2 separate regions of the Homo sapiens genome follow, and region 1 is linked to region 2. Evidence: fine-mapped expression QTL. Tissue or cell type: whole blood. Region 2 holds a variant in brackets; the other region holds the start of a gene. All regions are shown on one strand. Distances are between the middles of the regions.

Region 1 (2,911 bases), 50 kb before region 2:
TCACAGCTCTGTCGCCCAGGCTGCAGTGCAAGTGGCACGATCTCGGCTCACTGCAACCGCAGCCTCCCGGGTTCACGCTATTCTTCCGCCTCAGCCTCCCCAGGAGCTGGGACTACAGGCACGTGCCACCTTGCCCAGCTAATTTTTTGTATCTTAGTAGAGATGATGGGTTTTCACCATGTTGGCCAGGCTGGTCTCGGACTCCTGACCGCAGGCAGTCCGCCCACCTCAGCCTCCCAAAGTGCTAGGATTACAGGCGTGAGCCACCGCGCCCAACCAGAACTCAACTCTTTTAACCAATTGCCAATCAGAAAGTATCTGAATCCACCTATGACCTCTAAGTATTTCACCCTTTGAGTTGTCCTGCCTTTCCACACGGAACCAACCTATGTCTTACATGCATTGACTGATGTCTTATGTCTCTCTAAAATGTATAAAACCAAGCAAGCTGTAACCCAAGCACCTTGGGCCAAGTTCTCAGGACCTTTTGAGACTGTGCCTCCCTCCATGCACACTCATATTTGGCTCAGAATAACCTTCTAAATACTTTAGAGTTTGACTCTTCTCGACAAGGACAAGAGAAGTGGAATAAACGAATAACCGCAGTTTTCCTGGTGGTATTGGTCACTGGGTTCAGGTTTTGGAGTAGTAGCCAGTCAAGCCTGGAATCCCCTTCCTCATTCGCTTTAGCTTTTTGTCCAGTCTTGGTTTGCAAGAGACTTGCAGCGGCCTAGACGGATGGCCGGGATTCACAAAGGTCGCAGACACGGGAACTGCTTCTTCCCCAGCGTCGCCTCCACACCCTCGCGTGGATACTGACATCCGCCCCATTCCAGGAATGCGCACAGCTAGGCGCAGCCGGCCAGCGTGGGCCGGGGGCGGCGGGGCCACCTCCCCCACCTCCGCGCGCAAGGCCCGTCGCCCTTGACAACGCGATCCAAGGTCACGGAGGTCCCACCCCCAGGCCCGACCGTCCACGAGACGGGTAGTACCCCGCCACGCGCCCGAGCAGGCAGCTGCCCGGACAGCCCGGCGCCCGCCGTGACGTCACCGCCCCGCGCCCGAGGAAGCCCCGCCCCGCGCAGCCCCGTCCCGCCCCTTCCCATCGTGTACGGTCCCGCGTGGCTGCGCGCGGCGCTCTGGGAGTACGACATGGCGCGCGAGCTGCGGGCGCTGCTGCTGTGGGGCCGCCGCCTGCGGCCTTTGCTGCGGGCGCCGGCGCTGGCGGCCGTGCCGGGAGGTGAGGGCGTCCTGGCTGGACGGGCAGCGGGCGGGCCGGGCCACGGAGACGGCAGGGACGTCCCTGTGCTCCGGGGAGCGAGGCGCCGGCACCTGCTTCACAGGCGTGGGAGGTCCGGCGAGGCCAAGCGCGGCAGACGCGTTTACTTTCGCTCCGCTCCTCGCCAGCTCCAGCTTGGCTGCCTTTTCCTCGGCTGGACTCCCCTCGCCACCCGCCCATGGGAGCCCTGAAGGAGGCTGGGTCTTGGGGGGTCGCGGGGTCGGGCGGAGCGGCTGCGGGGTCGTCCCTCCTGGAGCTTCGGTCCAGTCAGGTAGCGCACGTGCAGGTGGAGCCGCTGCGGAGCGCGGAGTCTTTGCGGGTGCATGTTGCGGGGAATGGACTCACTCGGGGTGATCGTGCTAGTTCCATGGATCGTGCTTTACCCCTCCCCGCCTCCCAGTAGCGCACTGAGGGTTCATTTGTTAATTCGTTCATTGGACGCACATGTGAGCGCCCGCTCAGTGCCCGGCGCCGTGCAGGTTCTGGGGACGCCACAGTGAACAAAACCTATAGCAGTCATCCGGGTCCCCAGAGCAGGTGGACTCGATGTCGTTGACGCAGCTGTGTCCTCGGGGCCTGGAATTGATGGATGCGCCAATAAATGTTTGTAAAACAGAGAGAACGACCCTAACCTCTGCTTTCCCAGTCCCCACTCGGAGGTAACAACAGTGAAAGTTTCGGCATTGCTTCGGGGCTGTACACAGTGTTATACGTGTAAATATAAATGTCTGCGTATAAGTATTTTTTATTCTAAAAAGCCTAAACCATGTATGCATTGTGCTACGTTGTACTTCAGAAAATTTTAACGCTCCCAGCATTCTTTCCACATCTTTTCATGTCAGTGTATACAGGTCCATGTGCCTTCCAGTGACCACACAGTATTCTGTATGATGGACGTGTCATTTGTTTAAACATTGTCCTATTAGTGGACGCAATAAAGGTTATTTCAGGTTTTACTTTTTATTACAATGCTGCATAGAATGGGTGAGTACTTAAATATTTGTTCACGTGCGGTATTTCTTTAGCCTTACATAATTAGAATTTTAGAATTGATATTTCAGAGCCTATGCATTTTTGAAATGTTAGCAGATACTGCCAAATTGTCCAAAAAGGCCTTATCAATTTATATCCCCTTTAGCAGGCATCAAGACTGCCTATTCCAAAGGTATTTTCTTCAACGCTGAATCTTATGTCTTTTCAAAACCAGTGGTCTATAAAAGATACCTTGTGGCCGGGCGCGGTGGCTCACGCCTGTAATCCTAGCACTTTGGGAGCCTGAGGTGGGCAGATCAGGAGTTCAAGACCAGCCTGGCCAACATGGTGAAACCCTGTCTCTACTAAAAATACAAAAATTAGCTGGGTGTGGTGGCGCGCGCCTGTAATCCCAGCTTCTTGGGAGGCTGAGGCAGGAGAATCGCTTGAACCCAGGAGGCAGAGATTGCAGTGAGCTGAGATTGCACCACTGCACTCCAGCCTGGGCGACAGAGTGAGACTTCATCTCAACAACAAAAATAATAATAATTTTCCCTCAGAAAGTGATGCTGTTGCTCTCTTCTAGCACCAGTGTCTGATCAATTATTTATTTATTTTTTTGTCTTTATGAGGTGGGGTTTCACTATGTTGGCCAGGCTG
Region 2 (2,911 bases):
CCCTGCGGGCCGAGGCGGCTGCGTTCCTCTCCCCATCCTGAATGTGTTTCCTGAGTATTTCTTCTCCACTGAGAACTGTGCTGAGCCTGCATAAACACGTGTTTCATCCTGTGAGGGGAGCCGTGAGTCCTCACTCATAGTTGTGGAAACTGAGTCACAGAGGGGTGGTCCTGCTCAGTAAGGGAGCTGCATTCCTGGCTGTGGCAGGCATGCTGGCCCACTGGTAGTGCCCGAAGCTGCAGAGCAGGGGTCCTCATCCCAGCTTGTGGTTGTCAAAGGTTGCGTTGTCAGTCTGAGAACTCATCTCGATCAGAAAAGAGTCAGCCGAAATTAGAGCTTTTGAAAGAATCACAGGCTTAAAAGTTGGAAGCATGGTACCAAGAACATGTTTTTCCTCGAATCCTGTGAGAGGAAGTTGCCTTCTCGATGCCTTTGGGGTGCATTTCCAACAAACAAGGATGTCCTTCCCTTTGTAATTAACAGATGTTATAGGTATTTTGAAGCTATGTAAATGTCACATTCTTCATGAAACTCTCAATACATTCATTTATTTACTTAAAATATTTATGTGTTGGCCGGGCGCGGTGGCTCACGCCTGTAATCCCAGCACTTTGGGAGGCCGAGGCAGGCAGATCACCTGAGGTCAGGAGTTCGAGACCAGCCTAGCCAACATGGTAAAACCCCGTCTCTACTTAAAAAATAGAAAAATTAGGCTGGGCGCAATGGCTCACTCCTGTAATCCCAGCACTTTGGGAGGCCGAGGCGGGTGGATCACGAGGTCAGGAGTTACCAGCCTGCCAAGATGGTGAAACCCCATCTCTACTAAAAACACAAAATTTTAGCCAGTCGTGGTGGCAGGCAGGTGTAATCCCAGCCACTCGGGAGGCTGAGGCAGAGAATTGCTTGAACCTGGGAGGTGGAGATTGCAGTGCGCCAAAATCACGCCACTGCACTCCAGCCTGGGCGACAGAGCGAGACTCATCTCAAAAAAAAAAAAAAAAAAAAAATCAGCCGGGTATGGTGGCAGGTGCCTGTAATCCCAGCTACTTGGGAGGCTGAGGCAGGAGAATTGCTTGAACCCGGGAGGCAGAGGTTGCAGTGAGCCGAGATCACGCCACTGCACTCCAGCCTGGGGGACAAGAGCAAGATTCGTCGGATGGAAAAAAAAAAAAAAATT[G/T]ATGTGTTATATTTATACTATTTATAATTTATTTATATGGGCTGATTTCCTGTTTTATTCAAGAGTTTATAATCTTGCTATCATTAATAAAATTTTTTTATTTTTATTTATTTATTTATTTATTTATTTTTGAGATGGAGTCTTACTCTGTTGCTCAGGCTGGAGTGCAGTGGCGAGGTATTGGCTCACCGAAACCTCTGCCTCCCGGATTCAAGCGATTCTCCTGCCTCAGCCTTTCAAGTAGCTGGGACTACAGTCACCCACCACCATGCCCTGGTAATTTTTTGTATTTTTAGTAGAGACGGGGGCTTACCATGTTGACCAGGCTGGTCTCAAACTCCTGACCTCTGGTGATCCGCCCGCCTCAGCCTCCCAAAGTGGTGCGATTACAGGCAGGAGCCACCATGCCCCGTTGATTATTCTTAGCACGGTTACCCATTTGACCAATCCCCCTCCATGTAACCAATCTACCATTGCCACTGCCCTCTTCTGCGGGTGTCCCTGTCACCTACTTGGGCTCTGACTCTTCACGGTGGGCTGGTCACGCCCCCAGCCTGGACACCCTTCTCTGGGGTTCTTGGGCTCTGACACCCATACCAGGCTCTTCCCAACCATGGCCCTGCATAGACACCTTCCCTGGGCTCTGCACCGCATCCTGGGCTACTGTCCCCCCGCTCCCAGGCACGAAGGCATGTCCTGTCCCATTCTGCCCTGTGGCTGAAGGACTGAGTCACTGGGGATGGAGTGTGGGAGGAAAGGCTCTAAATGAACTCGAGAGAGTGTTGTTCCCATGCTCTGGATTATTGAAATACATTGTAATTTACCTGCTTAAAGGAAAGACTAAATATTAAGAAGAAAATAAAAATATCCCTAGTCCCAGTGATAAAGTTGTTCCTAATTTTAGGCCATTATGTAATGCTGCAGTAAATATCCTGATCCCTAAAATCCCAATTTTGAAAAATTAGAGTATACATATATTCAGTATAAATCCCAAATTACAGTGTACATATATAGTATATACAGTGCTGCTCCTAATGATGGAAAATTGTTATGTACATGTAGAATGTGCATTCTTTGCCTGTATCTATAGACGTACTGTAATTTACCCACATTGGGATTTTTCTGGGTTTTCTTTCAACACAGCTAACTTTCTCATGTCATTGAGGATTATTAAAAGATGCAGTTTTTTTTTTTTATGGCCATTTAGCATTACATAATTTTAGCCTATATTCTTGAACATGAGGTTGTTCATAATTGTTATATTTTATGTGCCACAGTGAAAATCCTGGTACATAAATCTTGGTGTGCTCACATGTTTCCTAAGGTGCAGTTCCTATAATTGGAACAACTGGCTCAAAGGTTGGAAGGGTTTTCCGGGCGTGGGTATCTTGTCTCTGGGGGCATCGGTTCTCCTACTGCCTCCAGGGGGTGTCTGCCCTCCACCCTGCTGCCTCCTGTCCGGCCACTGCCCAGGGTTTCTGTCTTTCTGCTCAGTCTTTTTCAGTTTGGCCAATAACGGTACCTTGTTGTTTTCACTTCTTTGATTCTTAGCGGGGCTGAACATTTTTTCGTACCCTCTGGCCATTTGTATTTCATAGAGGCTGCTTGTATGTATTAAATGCATTTCTTTTCTGTAGGAAACTCCGGGACGTTTTACAGCAGAGGCTGATCAAATTCTTCATTGACCAGAGTAAAAAAGATGCTGAGAAGTATGCAAAGTTTTTTGAAGATTAC

Evidence for each region.
Region 1: TRAP1 starts here. The variant in region 2 is fine-mapped to the expression of TRAP1 in whole blood (INTERVAL, PIP 0.96).

What each region holds. Positions count from the first base shown.
Region 1 is chr16:3,715,750-3,718,660 of GRCh38, reverse strand. TRAP1 (TNF receptor associated protein 1) reads left to right here and starts at 1,137. Exons shown (of 18, transcript NM_016292.3): 1 at 1,137-1,240. The coding sequence starts at 1,153. RefSeq lists silencers at 787-1,396, 1,417-1,536.
Region 2 is chr16:3,666,022-3,668,932 of GRCh38, reverse strand. It overlaps TRAP1 (TNF receptor associated protein 1), which reads left to right. Exons shown (of 18, transcript NM_016292.3): 12 at 2,815-2,911. Among named protein-coding and RNA genes, the nearest start is that of DNASE1, 13 kb to the right of the region's middle. The variant G/T (reference allele first, on the strand shown) is at 1,178.